Linked DNA regions of Homo sapiens: region 2 is linked to region 1. The links come from fine-mapping of genetic effects on gene expression. A gene starts in region 1. The other region holds a variant in brackets. All regions are shown on one strand. Distances are from middle to middle.

Region 1 (8,333 bases):
CTAGCAGGTGAAGACAGTCCAGAATTTGAGGAGTTTGCTTTGTCTGCTGATTTGCTCCTTCTTAAACAAGGCTATAAGAAAAAGGCAAATGGGATGGAATATTTCACTTAGAAGTGCCTGTCAGTGAGTTTGATCTTCCAAGAAAATGAAAGCCAACTAACAGTCTCCACCAAGGTCAAAACAATGGTAGTTGGAAGGACACAGAGGCAACTCTAGTGAAAGATTTCTAGAATTCTGCAGTCAAGACATATGAACTGCCTTCATCTTTATCACCAAGTATTACAACCAGTCGTAAACAACGGTCAGGACAGCTCTTTTGCAAGGAGGTCAAAGTCCTGCCAACATCGAATCCTGCAGAATACTCTTATAAGTAAAACCTCAGTACGTAAATACAATCCATATTTAACCAAAACAAAAGCTGAGGCTCAGAGAAGTTAAATGAAGTGCCAAGGGTCGGGGAGGGCTTTGGGGTGATTCAAGCACATTACATTTACGGTGTACTTTATTTCTATTATTACACTGTCATATATCATGAAATAATTTTACAACTCACCATAACGTAGAATCAATGGGAGCCCTGAGCTTGTTTTCCTGCAACTAGATGGTCCTATCTGGGGGAGAGGGGAAACAGTGACAGATCATCAAGCATTAGATTCTCATAAGGTGTCTGCAAACTAGAACCCTCACTTGTGCAGTTCACAATAGGGTTCACGCTCCTATGAGAATCTAATGCCGTGGCTGATCTGACAGGAGGTGGCTCAGGTGGTAATGCAAGCAATGGGGAGGAGCTGTAAATACAGATGAGGCTTTGCTCACTCACTCAGCCACTCACCTCCTGTAGTGTGGCCCAGTTCCAGTACCGGTCTGTGGACCAGGGGTTGGGGACCCCTTGACCTAAAGCACAGCAATATCTGAGTAAAACAATTATCAATTATATCTAGTGAAAAGGGAACTGGAACAGACTATCAAGCAATGATGAGTATGTTTTTGCAATATAAAAGGGACAATGCCAGTGATGACCAGCTCCCAACTCCCGGAAAAAAAGAGATTTCATATGCATTCCCAAGTCAAGAGACATGCATTACCACCAACATATCATCTACTAAATACCATTAACAAGAGCGACAAAATATTTTTAAGCAAAGGCTAAAATAACCTACTCTCCTGACGGTCTAAGTGAAACAAAAACTCTTAACGATCTACGTACAATCCTCTAATTGATTTAAGTCAGCTACTCTTGAAAAACCCAAATACATAATACATCTACACTAATTTTTAAATCCAGAATGTGTCCTGGGTTTAGTGATTCAGAGTATCTAAATCTACATATACATAAAATTATCTTCTCTTTGGGAACAGGCTTCCAAAAATGTCATCTTTTGCTACTGACGGCATGCATGTGTGTATAAAATCCAATTATAAGTGTTTCCCTTCTCTACACCTGGGCAGAACACTGTACTGAGGAACCAATAAAAGGAGATGGTCTCCAAACACAGGTGGGCCTGCACCACTGCTCAGCCATGTTTACAGGCCCCACTCCCAAGGCTGTCTTTACAAGCTTCCTACCTTATTCCTGATAAATCTGTTTGTTTCACAAAGGAAAGGAGACAATCAGGCTGGAAACTCCTTTCCGTGCCCGTGACTCCTGTCCTGTCTCTCAAAAATTCTTCCCTAACCTCTAAGAGTCTCTCCATCCCATCAATGCTCTGAAAATCCATTCCTTCCCATGTCCTCATTTTTGAGACAAAGTCTCGCTCTGACACCCAGGCTGGAGTGCAGTTGTGCGATGATGGCTCACTGCAACCTTCGCCTCCAGGACTCAAGCAATCCTGCCATCTCAGCCTCCGGGCAGCTGGGTCCGTGGGACCACGGGCATGCGCCACCGGACTTCACTAATTTTTTTTTAATTTTTTTGTAAAGACCAGATTTCACGATATTGCCCAGTCTGGTCTCGAACTGCTGGAAGCAAGCCATCCTCCCACCACAGCCTCTCAAAGTGCTGGGATCACAGGTGTGAGCCACCGCGCCCAATCTTATTCCACTCATTTTACCTTCAGCCTCTCCGGAGGCTCCTCTCCCCCTATATACACAACATGCTCAAGTCCCTTTACTCTCACCATTCCTATTTACCATCTTTTGGGGGTAAAACCATGGTACCTAATTACAACTCTTACTTAACCAAATTATAATTGCGGCTCAGGTGGTTTAAAAAGTGCCCTCAGGAACTCTGCGCCTCACCTCTCCCAGCTGTGATAAAACCCCGTGAACCTCCTATCATTGCTCTTAGGTGATTCTGTAATTATTAATATTACTTGTGTATGCCTTGGTCTCCCCACCAGACCATGCGATCGTTACCATCAGTAAGCAGGGCCCTTCGTTTTCGTCTCTGTGGCGGCTCGCACTCTACCAGGGCTCCCGGGTGGGTCCCACAGATTCCTGTGCCCTAAATGCTGCCTCGCACGTTGGTACTTATGCACAGGCAATATACTCCACCTAGAACGTTAGACTTTTTTCCACCTGCCAGGCACACTCCCACTCATCAGTCAGATCTCGTTTGCACATTTCTTTATAAAGTCGTTCCTTACTCTCCCCAAGACACACGCTTTTAAGTCTCTCACATTTGGTACATATAACCATTGCAGCGCTAATTACATCCATACATGTATTTGTTTACAAATCTATCTCCCATCCTACGTTGTGTCCTAAGTGGGAGGGACAGTGCCCAGTCGTTTTGGTGTTCCCTGTGCGAAGCAGCGCCTGGCACTCAGCAGGTGCTTAATAAATGCGACTTGAGTGAATGAATGGCGACACACGTGCCCCAGGAGGTGCCCCAGGAGGTGCCGTCTCTAACTATGGGCTCTGCATGGGCGATTCCCTTCTAATACAAACGAGGGTTTGGTTTGCAGGAAGGAGGGCGGGAGGTACCGAGGCGGAGGTTTTCAGGGCTCGTGGCGGCGGGGGGCAGGGGATTTAAATTGCTGGGCGAGCCGAGGCCGACGGCCGGAGGAAGGAGGCGAGAGGGCGGGGACTCCCGCGTCCGGGCGGAAGGAGGGCGCAGGGAGGAGCTGCGGCCGTAGGGCTGCCGGTCGGGCGAGGGGTAGGGGAGGCTCCCGCCCACTCCCGGCCGGGGCCCCGCACTCACTCGTCCCCCTGCAGGAGGCTGCGCTCCGTGATGGGCCGCACGGCCGTCCTCGGGGGCTCGGCGCCCGGATCCGAGGGGCGGAAGCACAGGCTCAGCTTCTCCTCCAAGCTGCAGGCCGGGGCCGGGAAACCGTCGGCGCCCCCACCCGCCTCGGCCCCCGCCTCCGCCCCAGGCTCGGGGCTCGCGTTACAGTTCTCCTGGTCCAGGAGGCTCCGGGCCGGCTCCTGGAACTCATAGAAATCCTGCCAGTCCCCGTCCGCCGCCATCGCCGCCCGGAGCAGTCGCGCGCCCCGCCCAGGCCGGCCCAGCCCGCCCAGCCCGGCCCCGCCCCGGCCCGAAGCCCCGCCCCCGCCCGCTACCGTGCTGACAGATCCCAGGCTGTCCCAACCCTGGGTCTCCGGTGGCCTGAGTCTTCCTGGAGTTGAACGCGGTGCTACTAGAAAGCCAAGACCTTAACTGCCTTGAGTCACTTCCTATATTCTCTATCATTTAGGAATAACTTCCCTGTTAGCTTCCCTTATTAGCAACTTGGCCTAAATGTGGCTAAAATAAAGGACTTCTTTAAACTTACGACCTAATATCAGATTACGCCCCGAAAGTCGTTTTCCCCAAGGTAACCTGCTCCTTTCCTAACTTGCCAACCAGAATAACAGCCAGAGTCAATGGGAAATGTTTAGGTGGTACCGAAGTTCATTCCTCAAATATTTTACCTCTCACGTGCAAAGCACTGGCTAGATCCTGCAGAACATACAAAGATAATTATGCCAGTTAACATTTGCAAAGCACTTAGAGCAATGCCTAATAGTAGATACCCTATGTGTATGTTATAACTAATACATGGGTGCCCCATACACAGGGCTTACAATGTCGGAGTGATAAGAGTAACAAGAAATTGTTTAGACCTCATAAAAACTAAGTGTGATTGGGCGGTTCAGTTTTGCAAGATGAAAAGAGTTATGGAGATGGATGGTGGTGATGGTTCCACGACAGTGTTAATGTGCTGAATGCCACTGATCTATACACTTACAGATGGTTAAGATAGTAATTTTATGTTTATTTTACTACAATACAAAAAAATTGGAGTAGGCCAGGCGAGGTGGCTCACATCTATAATCCCAGCACTTTGGCAGGCCCAGGTGGACGGATCGCTTGAGGTCAGGAGTTCAAGACCAACCTGGCCAACATGGTAAAACCCCGTCTCTACTAAAAATACAAAATCTAGCTGTCAGGCCTCTGAGCCCAAGCCAAGCCATCGCATCCCGTGACTTGCACATATACACCCAGATGGCCTGAAGTAACTGAAGATCCACAAAAGAAGTAAAAATAGCCTTAAGGATGACATTCCACCATTGTGATTTGTTCCTGCCCCACCCTAACTGATCAATGTACTTTGTAATCTCCCCCACCCTTAAGAAGTTTCTTTGTAATTCTCCCCACCCTTGAGAATGTACTTTGTGAGATCCACCCCTGCCCGCAAAACATTGCTCTTAACTTCACCGCCTGACCCAAAACCTGTAAGAACTAATGATAATCCATCTCCCTTCGCTGACTCTCTTTTCGGACTCAGCCCGCCTGCATCCAGGTGAAATAAACAGCCGTGTTGCTCACACAAAGCCTGTTTGGTGGTCTCTTCACACGGACGCACATGAAATTTGGTGCCGTGACTCGGATCGGGGGACCTCCCTTGGGAGATCAATCCCCCTGTCCTCCTGCTCTTTGCTCCATGAGAAAGATCCACCTACGACCTCAGGTCCTCAGACCGACCAGCCCAAAAAACATCTCACCAATTTCAAATCCAGTAAGCGGCCTCTTTTTACTGTCTTCTCCAGCTTCCCTCACTATCCCTCAACCTCTTTCTCCTTTCAATCTTGGCGCCGCACTTCAATCTCTCCCTTCTCTTAATTTCAGTTCCTTTCATTTTCTGGTAGAGACAAGGGAGACACGTTTTATCCGTGGACCCAAAACTCCGGCGCCGGTCACGGGCTGGGAAGGCAGCCTTCCCTTGGTGTTTAATCATTGCAGGGACGCCTCTGATTATTCACCCACGTTTCAAAGGTGTCAGACCACGCAGGGACGCCTGCCTTGGTCCTTCACCCTTAGCGGCAAGTCCCGCTTTTCTGAGGAAGGGGCGAGTACCCCAACCCCTTCTCTCCTTGTCTCTACCCCTTCTGTGATTTTTCTGGGGCAGGGGCAAGAACCCCTCAACCCCTTCTCCTTCACCCTTAGCGGCAAGTCCCGCTTTTCTAGGTGGCAAGAACCCCCAATCCCTTATTTCCACACCCCAATCTCTTATCTCTGTGCCCCAATCCCTTATTTCCGTGCCCCAACCCCCCTTCCCGCTTTTCTGGAGGGTAACAACCCCGAACCCCTTCCCTCCATGTCTCTACGCTCTCTTTTCTCTGGGTTTACCTCCTTCACTATGGGCAACCTTCCATCCTCCATTCCTCCTCCTTCTCGCTTAGCCTGTCCTCAAGAACTTAAAACCTCTTCAACTCACACCTGACCTAAAACCTAAATGCATTATTTTCTTCTGCAACACCACTTGGCCCCAATACAAACTTGACAATGGCTCTAAATGGCCAGAAAAGGGCACTTTCGATTTCTCCATCCTACAAGACCTAAATAATTTTTGTAGAAAAATGGGCAAATGGTCTGAGGTGCCTTACGTCCAGGCATTTTTCACACTTCACTCCCTCCCTAGCCTCTGTTCCCAATGCGATTCCTCCCAGATCCTCCTTTCCCTCCTGCCTATCCCCTCAGTCCCAACCCCAAGCGTCGCTGAGTTTTTCCAGTCTTCCTTTTCTACAGACCCATCTGACCTTTCCCCTCCTCCCCAGGCTGCTCGTCGCCAGGCCGAGCTAAGTCCCAATTCTTCCTCAGCCCCAACTCCTCCACCCTATAATCCTTCTATCACCTCCCCTCCTCACACCTGGTCTGGCTTACAGTTTAGTTCCGCGACTAGCTCTTCCCCACCTGCCCAGCAATTTACTCTTAAAAAGATGGCTAGAGCTAAAGGCATAGTCAAGGTTAATGCTCCTTTTTCTTTATCCCAAATCAGATAGCATTTAGGCTCTTTTTCATCAAATATAAAAATCCAGCCCAGTTCATGGCTCGTTTGGCAGCAACTCTGAGACGCTTTACAGCCCTAGACCCTAAAAGGTCAAAAGGCCGTCTTATTCTCAATATACATTTTATTACCCAATCTGCTCCCAACATTAAATAAAACTCCAAAAATTAGAATCTGGCACTCAAACCCCACAACAGGACTTAATTAACCTCACCTTCAAGGTGTACGATAATAGAATAAAGTTGCAATTCCTTGCCTCCACTGTGAGACAAACCCCAGCCACATCTCCAGCACACAAGAACTTCCAAACGCCCGAACCGCAGCGGCCAGGGGTTCCTCCAGAACCTCCTCCCCCAGGAGCTTACTACAAGTGCCAGAAATCTGGCCACCAGGCCAAGGAATGCCCACAGCCCAGGATTCCTCCTAAGCCGTGTCCCATCTGTGCGGGACCCCACTGAAAAATCGGACTGTTCAACTCACCTGGTAGCCACTTCCAGAGCCCCTGGAACTCTGGCCCAAGGCTCTCTGACTCCTTCCCAGATCTTCTCAGCTTAGCGGCTGAAGACTGACACTGCCCAATCGCCTCGGAAGCCCCCTAGACCATCACGGATGCCAAGCTTCGGGTAACTCTCACAGTGGAGGTTAAGTCCGTCCCTTCTTAATCAATACGGAGGCTACCTGCTCCACATTACCTTCTTTTCAAGGGCCTGTTTCCCTTGCTTCCATAACTGTTGTGGGTATTGACGGCCAGGCTTCTAAACCTCTTAAAACTCCCCAACTCTCGTGCCAACTTGGACAACACTCTTTTATGCACTCTTTGTTAGTTATCCCCACCTGCCCAGTTCCCTTATTAGGCCGAGATATTTTAACCAAATTATCTGCTTCCCTGACTATTCCTGGACTACAGCCACATCTCATTGCCGCCCTTCTCCCCAACCCAAAGCCTCCTTCGTGTCTTCCTCTCATATCCCCCCACCTTAACCCACAAGTATGGGACATCTCTACTCCTTCCCTGGCAACCGATCTCATGCCCATTACCATCCCATTAAAATCTAATCACCTTTACCCCACTCAACGCCAATATCCCATCCCACAGCATGCTTTAAAAGGATTAAAGCCTGTTACCACTCGCCTGCTACAGCATGGGCTTCTAAAACCTATAAACTCTCCTTACCATTCCCCCATTTTACCTCTCCTAAAACGAGACAAGGCTTACAGGTTAGTTCAGAATCTGCACCTTATCAACCAAATTGTTTTGCCTATCCACCCCGTGGTGCCAAACCCATATACTCTCCTATCCTCAATACCTCCCTCTACTACCCATTATTCTGTTCTGGATCTCAAACATGCTTTCTTTACTATTCCTTTGCACGCTTCATCCCAGCCTCTCTTTGCCTTCACTTAGACTGACCCTGACACCCATTAGGCTCAGCAAATTGACTGGGCTGTACTGCCGCAAGGCTTCACAGACAGCCCCCATTACTTCAGTCAAGCCCAAATTTCATCCTCATCTGTTACCTATCTCGGCATAATTCTCGTAAAAACACACGTGCTCTCCCTGCTGATCGTGTCCGATTAATCTCCCAAACCTCAATCCCTTACTAAAGAACAACTCCTTTCCTTCCTAGGCATGGTTAGTGCGGTCAGAATTCTTACACAAGAGCCAGGACCACACCGGGTAGCCTTTCTGTCCAAACAACTTGACCTTACTGTTTTAGCCTAGCCCTCATGTCTGCATGCAGTGGCTGCCGCTGCTTTAATACTGTTAGAGGCCCTAAAAATCACAAACTATGCTCAACTCATTCTCTACATTTCTCATAACTTCCAAAATCTATTTTCTTCTCACACCTGACGCATATACTTTCTGCTCCCCGGCTCCTTCAGCTGTACTCACTCTTTGTTAAGTCCCACAATTACCATTGTTCCTGGCCCGGACTTCAATCCGGCCTCCCACATTATTCCTGATACCACACCTGACCCCCATGACTGTATCTCTCTGATCCACCTGATATTCACCCCATTTCCCCGTATTTCCTTCTTTCCTGTTCCTCACCCCGATCACACTTGATTTATTGATGGCAGTTCCACCAGGCCTAATCGCCACACACCAGCAAAGGCAGGCTA
Region 2 (8,333 bases), 46 kb before region 1:
GACTGCAAGAAAGGAACCAGAGTCCAGGTGGACAGTTCCCAGAGAATGCTAAGAATTGCAGAACCAGATGCAAGATTCAGTGGCTTCTACAGCATGCAAAAACAGAACCATCTACAGGCAGACAATTTCTACCAAACAGTGTGAAGAAAGGCAACTAGGATGAGGTTTCAAAAGACGGAAGACGACTAAATCTGCTCTAAAAAGTAAACTAGAATTTGTGCACTTGCTTAGTGGATTGTATTGGATTGTGACTTGATGTACAGCGCTAAGACCTTACTGGGATGGGCTCTGTCTACAGCAATGTGCAGAACAAGCATTCCCACTTTTCCTCAAGATAACTGACCAAGTGTTTTCTTAGAACCAAAGTTTTTAAAGTTGCTAAGATATATTTGCCTGTAAGATAGCTGTAGAGATATTTGGGGTGGGGACAGTGAGTTTGGATGGGGAAATGGGTGGGAGGGTGGTGTTGGGAAGAAAAATTGGTCAGCTTGGCTCGGGGAGAAACCTGGTAACATAAAAGCAGTTCAGTGGCCCAGAGGTTATTTTTTTCCTATTGCTCTGAAGACTGCACTGGTTGCTGCAAAGCTCAGGCCTGAATGAGCAGGAAACAAAAAAGGCCTTGCGACCCAGCTGCCATAACCACCTTAGAACTACCAGACGAGCACATCAGAACCCTTTGACAGCCATCCCAGGTCTAAAGCCACAAGTTTCTTTTCTATACAGTCACAACTGCAGTAGGCAGTGAGGAAGCCAGAGAAATGCGATAGCGGCATTTCTCTAAAGCGGGTTATTAAGGATATATACAGTTACACTTTTTGCTGCTTTTATTTTCTTCCAAGCCAATCAATCAGCCAGTTCCTAGCAGAGTCAGCACATGAACAAGATCTAAGTCATTTCTTGATGTGAGCACTGGAGCTTTTTTTTTTTTACAACGTGACAGGAAGAGGAGGGAGAGGGTGACGAACACCAGGCATTTCCAGGGGCTATATTTCACTGTTTGTTGTTGCTTTGTTCTGTTATATTGTTGGTTGTTCATAGTTTTTGTTGAAGCTCTAGCTTAAGAAGAAACTTTTTTTAAAAAGACTGTTTGGGGATTCTTTTTCCTTATTATATACTGATTCTACAAAATAGAAACTACTTCATTTTAATTGTATATTATTCAAGCACCTTTGTTGAAGCTCAAAAAAAATGATGCCTCTTTAAACTTTAGCAATTATAGGAGTATTTATGTAACTATCTTATGCTTCAAAAAACAAAAGTATTTGTGTGCATGTGTATATAATATATATATATACATATATATTTATACACATACAATTTATGTTTTCCTGTTGAATGTATTTTTATGAGATTTTAACCAGAACAAAGGCAGATAAACAGGCATTCCATAGCAGTGCTTTTGATCACTTACAAATTTTTTGAATAACACAAAATCTCATTCTACCTGCAGTTTAATTGGAAAGATGTGTGTGTGAGAGTATGTATGTGTGTGTGTGTGTGTGTGTGTGTGCGCGCGCACGCACGCCTTGAGCAGTCAGCATTGCACCTGCTATGGAGAAGGGTATTCCTTTATTAAAATCTTCCTCATTTGGATTTGCTTTCAGTTGGTTTTCAATTTGCTCACTGGCCAGAGACATTGATGGCAGTTCTTATCTGCATCACTAATCAGCTCCTGGATTTTTTTTTTTTTTTTTTCAAACAATGGTTTGAAACAACTACTGGAATATTGTCCACAATAAGCTGGAAGTTTGTTGTAGTATGCCTCAAATATAACTGACTGTATACTATAGTGGTAACTTTTCAAACAGCCCTTAGCACTTTTATACTAATTAACCCATTTGTGCATTGAGTTTTCTTTTAAAAATGCTTGTTGTGAAAGACACAGATACCCAGTATGCTTAACGTGAAAAGAAAATGTGTTCTGTTTTGTAAAGGAACTTTCAAGTATTGTTGTAAATACTTGGACAGAGGTTGCTGAACTTTAAAAAAAATTAATTTATTATTATAATGACCTAATTTATTAATCTGAAGATTAACCATTTTTTTGTCTTAGAATATCAAAAAGAAAAAGAAAAAGGTGTTCTAGCTGTTTGCATCAAAGGAAAAAAAGATTTATTATCAAGGGGCAATATTTTTATCTTTTCCAAAATAAATTTGTTAATGATACATTACAAAAATAGATTGACATCAGCCTGATTAGTATAAATTTTGTTGGTAATTAATCCATTCCTGGCATAAAAAGTCTTTATCAAAAAAAATTGTAGATGCTTGCTTTTTGTTTTTTCAATCATGGCCATATTATGAAAATACTAACAGGATATAGGACAAGGTGTAAATTTTTTTATTATTATTTTAAAGATATGATTTATCCTGAGTGCTGTATCTATTACTCTTTTACTTTGGTTCCTGTTGTGCTCTTGTAAAAGAAAAATATAATTTCCTGAAGAATAAAATAGATATATGGCACTTGGAGTGCATCATAGTTCTACAGTTTGTTTTTGTTTTCTTCAAAAAAGCTGTAAGAGAATTATCTGCAACTTGATTCTTGGCAGGAAATAAACATTTTGAGTTGAAATCACACAGTGTAACTTGCAAAAAGATTCCATCTCTGAGATCCGAAAGACTTTTAAGGTTATCAGTCCAATGAACCCCTGGTGTAACAAGAAGTCCCGTGCTTTTGTCATTAGGCGGGTCTTTCCCAAGGTATCCTTGCAAAAAGAAAAGTGTCTCCCAGAGTACAGAGAATAGCGATGCTGTTTTTAGGGAGACAAGAAACCTACCTGCTGTCAGAAACGTGCTCATAGCTGGTATCAAAATTAACTTGCTACGCACAGGAGGACTGTGGTGGGAAATCCTACAGTGGTTCGATGCTGAAGAAGAAAGACTTTACCGAGCACGATCAGGGGAAGCCTAACTGCAAAGAGACTTTTTGAGCTGACAGGAAAAAATAAATAGGTATATTTTCATACATTTTAGAAGCATCAATTTAAGAATGAGCTATAAACAGACCAATGTTGAATCTCCTTTAAAAAAATATATCCCCCTAAGGACTTTCTACTATATCATATACCCTTTAAAGCTACATTTCTTCAGTACAAGGCGTCATTTTTACAAATTCAAATTAATTTAAATTATTAATATTACTGTGTAAGTACATGTATCTGGGGAAAGGGCCAGTAAGTTCCAAATAAGAACATTAATAAAACAAGGAAACCATCTCGAGTTTCTCATACCCCTAGAGATGATGGCTGAAATGCCAAGCAGGCATTAAACTTCAAACCGCGCCCCTGCCTTTGCAGTCATGGTGTCTCAGTTGCTGAGTGGAGTGAGGAATATGTTAGCCCTGTTTGTTTTGCTCACAGGTGTTTAAGTGGAATTGTGAAAGCCGCCTGTAGCAGGTCCTATATAGACTCTTAATTCATTCATGTCGTCTATGGGAGGGGTCTGCATGGCTGTTTTTGAAATGTCTCACAGCCCCAGAAAAAGAGCAGGACTTACTTCTGTCATTCCACAGCAGCTCAGCATACTCTAATAAACGTCCTCCTCTTCCCCTTCGTAGCATTCTGGGACTAATCAGGGTTTCATCTGCTCACATATTGTAGCGATGGGTTCTGTGTGGAATTAAGGGAAAGAATCTAGCACTGTAAGGAAAAAAAAAATACAACACAAAACTCCCAAATATAAGGCTCTCAAACATGTATTTTTACTTCTTAAAAAATTTATTAAATGCCATTGATTTGACTGGAACCAGCAAAAGTGCTCATGATATTGATGAATCCATAAGTAGCTGTATCTAGAATTCATACTTAAGAAAAACACACAGGCATGAATAAAATAGGACACAGTAATGAGAATGGGCAGTTCTGCAGTGTACACTTTCTCAAGCACCTCAGAGGACACACACT[T/TTTAAA]AAAGTACAATTCTTCACAGACACATGAAGCAGAACATTTGAAAATCAAAACTTAAATACAAGATTCTAAAAGTGAATGGCAATTTAATGGTTAAAATTTGACCAGTGGTGAAACAAGCAGCAAGCTACAAAATCCATCACCACCAACAGTTTCAATGTTAGCACTAAGTATTAAACCAAAGTAATGCATATTCTGGTTTTGCTTCTTCAAGAACAGCCCGTTTATTCTGTTTCAATCTCTCTGAACAATACTGGTAGGTAATAGTTACACTGACAATTCTCACAAAAAAACAGTGTTGGTTCTTGCCATCACTGAATTTATAGTATAAATCTCCCAAGGCTTTAATCTAGTTCATCAGTGCAGTTTAGATAAGAAAGCCATAAAAACAAATGGGCATACTGTCAGTTAATGAGAAATACAACTGCACATGCACAATTAATATTACTCTCTCTTAATCTACTAAGAGAACAGTTTATTAGTAGATTTAACAAAAACCATCTCTAGAATTCAAAATAGTGCCCATATTTCCGTTGGTTCTATAATATAAAGAATTAGTGTAGTCAAGATCTGTTAATACTGAATCAAACCCAAGTTCAAATGTGCTGAGTTTCCAATAGCAAGAAGGGTAATGGTAGCCAGCTCTCAGAATAATGCTGTCGGAAATCTAGCTTGGAGCCCACCGCAGATAAAGTTGCTGCTCTATGTAGGACACAGAACTAGAAGAAAAAGAGAACTTTTAGCTACAAATGTATATTTTGTATACATTTACACAAAACATACATTTTACATGTACATTTAAAAACCATTAAGTAATGAGAACTAAATGTTAATGCAAAGATCTATGTAGCAATTTTTTAAAGGTTTTAAGAGGCTATACCCAACAAGGATGAGTTCTCTCAACACACATTAGAATTTCCCAGAAATGAGATACCAAAAGGCCATGTCTCTTAGGGTGCCACTTGGAGATAGAAGCCCCTAACATTCGCCCTATACCATGAGGCTTGTGACACAACAAACAGGATCCCTAGGGAAGTCAAAGAAGGGTGCAAGTTTCTGCACACATTTTTATTCCTAACTAGCAGCACGGCAGCAGCCACGCGTACATTACTTCAGAATCAGCCTTGGGTACTACTGTCAAGGCAGCAGTGGCGGCAGGCTGCAGTGGGGTCATTAGGCAGGTGCGAGAAAGAGAAGCTCAATTAGCCCATACAGTGCCCACCCTACTCCCTTTTCTCAGGCCAAATGAGACCACTTTTCTACCTTCTTTCACTTCTGACATTTGCATTAAAACTAAGTGGTGTATTTAGGCAGCCAAGCCACACTCTCATCTGTGTTAAAACAACAACAAACCACCCAAAAAAGGGGAAGGAGTATTCTCCCCTTGAGCAATATCCCCCTCCCGGGCAAAGTGTCGTATTATTGGTCCCCAAGGAAGAGGAACAGTTAACCAGCTGTGAACTTTCAGGATGGGTGGAAAAGAGCATTTTCAATGACCCGACTTCCCCACCTTCCCACACACATTTGGGTAAATACATCTCCACATTGCACTCCCGTCTTCATTTTCTCTGACTACAGTCTCCACTGTAGTCTAAATCCTTGCTGCTTTTCCACCCAGTCCTCACAATACAAAGCCAAGACAAAACCACAACACATGCACACAGACAGCTCATCAGAAGCAGGTACAGTATAGATAGAACTGGGCTTACAGACAGGAGCCAGCGGCCCGAGCATGAGGAGCAGAATTAGATGGGTGCTGCTTCCCTAAGGCATGCGGTATAGGTAGGTTCACAATTATAGTCCTAGGTTTTCAGAGTAAAGAATTAAAAATCATTTTTCCCCAGAGGACTCTGTTCTTTGGGTCATAACATCCTTCCATGCAGTTAAATGCTAAAATAGCTAGAGAATGCTTCAGAAGCTCATTCTATCTCTGGCCCTCATAGAGGCCTAGGAACCCGATATAATTAAAATTTAAGACATGTTCTTTATGTTCGTCTCATTCCTGTTTCACATCTAGAAGAACGAACCTCAGAACAATCCAGCTTTCATACCAATGCTAGCACAACACAAAAGCAAACAAAGATGTCAGGTATTAAAAAAAAAATTTTTCAGAATTTTATAGGGAGAAAAAGTCCTCCATCAGAAAAAAAGCTTATTTTTTAAAATGATGTCAACTCAGTCTGTTCTACTCCAGTGTCAACCCACTAGTGTCTAGCTCATGCTTCTTACTCTCACCGCATCAAGACTCTTACAAGTGAAATGTGTGATTCACTTTGAGCACCCTGTGTATACTACTGAGGTTCCCCTTTCATGACACTATGGTTTAAGAAAAGACCATCAGAGGTTTCTAATGTCTCAGAAATCTTCATCTTCCTTGTGCTCAGCTAACTTTAATGGAGAAGAGAGAGAACCCAGAGAAGAAGACTGTTACTAGAAGAGGATTGCTCTCAAAATTTGATCAAACACTACAAAGATGCATTTTGTGATGCTTTCAAAATCTGGTCCCTGAATACCTGCTACTTTAAAAAAATATTTCATCGTAAAGTATTAATTTTGCCTCTAATTAAGTTCTTCCGTCCCTTCTTTATCATCCAAACTTTGCTCTTTTCTCGGCAAAGCAACTCAACCTCTCACTCTTCTTTTGCCTCATCAATATTCCCACCCTGTGTGAGCCTCACCTTGCCTCTAAGATTTGTGGCTGCTTTTTCACTTTCCTGGGTTTATGCAAGTCCATTCTTTTTATTTCCCCGCTTCCCTCCCTGTGTCTTACATCAGTCCCTTTCGTATTCCCTTTGGCACTGTTCACAGATGTGACTCTTCCTTCCTTCATCCGTCCTCACTAATGATCTGTCCTCCTTTCCACTGTCCTCAAGATGACAGAGACCACCCTTCTCAAATTTCCCAGTGCCAATCTGCCAACATCTGATACCCACATGATTATGGTGCCATCTCACTAATTTTCTTCTACTACCTCTCTTGATGTTTATAGTTTAACTGTGGAGATTATTTCCAACCCAGAACCTCCAATAAAACTTAAATTATATAAAACCATGATATATAATGTTGGTAGAAGTCAGTCATGTAGCTAATCCTCACCCTGCATAATAAGATTAATGAAAGTTGTGCATTGGGAAGTTACTGTCTAATGTATTAGCAAGGCGATGTATTTACTGACTAATCCAAACCTCCCAGCCATCGCACCTATACCATTATAAAACTCACCTTTCAGAATATAATCAGTTAACAAGCTCGGAACTTTTTCACTGTCCTCCTTCATGGCACGAAGAACTGCAAAATAGAAGAGGGGAAAAAAGACAACAATTAAAAATTTAGATCAAAAATATTATTTAATTTCAATCATTGTGGCCTTAATCTTCCTTAATTATAGGATATAACTGACTCATACAAATTATAGGTGATTTTCCTGATAAGGGGATACAACAATAAAGGCCCAATAATTTATTTTAGTGGAGTAAGTCCACAAGAATTTATTTTCGGTAAGAATATCCCACTTACCTGAGAGTTGCTTCCCTGATTTAAAATTTCCAAACAGTGGAGACAAAAAAAGAGGAACTGGGTTATTTACAAGGAGCCTTCGCTCTGTAATAATACCGGAAAGTGGGTTACTATAATGTGCACCTCAATGAACTCTGTGCAGCAAGAAAACCTCAGTGCTGCAGATCAAGCAAACTAGAGAAACTCTTAAAGAAATGGACAGCTATACCCTCCAACAAGCGTATCCTGTCAGACTCCTTAGAAACTTTCAAAGAAAAGACCCAAATGAAGAACAGACTTCCATGAAGCAGCATCGGGCATCTGCCTGGCTGTTGCCTCCTCTGCACTAGGGAGAAACCTGGGAGAATTAGCCTCATTCTAATTTGACAAATTTATCTTCTAAGTAAAAACTAAAATAGAAAAAGCAGCCACCTAGTATAACGTTTTTCTTTTTTAAGCTAGACCATTCAGGTTGAGATAAACTCACAAATATTATACTTTAACAGAGATTGCCAACTCAAATTTTCTCCAAAGCATCCTGGTAAAAATATTTCACTGTTTTTCCCCACCAATACGACAAGGCAAAATAGTGTAACTGTCAAATCAGCCTTCCTGGGTTTAAACCCTGGCTCTGCCACTTCCTAATTGTGTGACGCTGAGCAAGCTACTTAACCACTTTTGCACCAAGCTCTTCATCTGTGAAATGAGAATAATAATTAGATTTAATCTCAAAGGTTTGTTATGAGGACTAAGCTACTAATTCAGATATAAAGGTCATATCATAGTGCCTGGCACATAGTACATGCTATGTATTAACTGTAACTAACACTACTCAAATTATTTAAATTTTTATTAACTATTATTATTGCACCCAAAATCCCCTAATAGCTTTTATCAGGAAGACTATATATCCATAAACACTGTGACTGTCTCCA

Direction of the effects. Alleles are on the strand shown, and positions count from the first base shown. SD is a standard deviation of normalised expression in the study named.
With allele T in place of TTTAAA in region 2, the expression in thyroid of the gene that starts at base 3,434 in region 1 is higher (moderate effect, 0.50 SD a copy in GTEx).

Evidence for each region.
Region 2: its variant is fine-mapped to the expression of FEZ2 in thyroid (GTEx, PIP above 0.99). The same link has a PIP of 0.9 or more in amygdala, prefrontal cortex, spinal cord and tibial nerve.

Annotation. Positions count from the first base shown.
Region 1 is chr2:36,594,735-36,603,067 of GRCh38, forward strand. FEZ2 (fasciculation and elongation protein zeta 2) reads right to left here and starts at 3,434. Exons shown (of 8, transcript NM_005102.3): 1 at 3,143-3,434. The coding sequence starts at 3,408. RefSeq lists enhancers at 2,575-3,502, 3,503-4,429, 5,357-6,282 and silencers at 2,883-3,242, 3,283-3,502.
Region 2 is chr2:36,548,558-36,556,890 of GRCh38, forward strand. It overlaps CRIM1 (cysteine rich transmembrane BMP regulator 1), which reads left to right. Exons shown (of 17, transcript NM_016441.3): 17 at 1-2,578. The coding sequence ends at 144. FEZ2 (fasciculation and elongation protein zeta 2) reads right to left here. Exons shown (of 8, transcript NM_005102.3): 7 at 7,126-7,191; 8 at 3,701-4,622. The coding sequence ends at 4,606. Among named protein-coding and RNA genes, the nearest start is that of FEZ2, 45 kb to the right of the region's middle. The variant T/TTTAAA (reference allele first, on the strand shown) is at 3,906.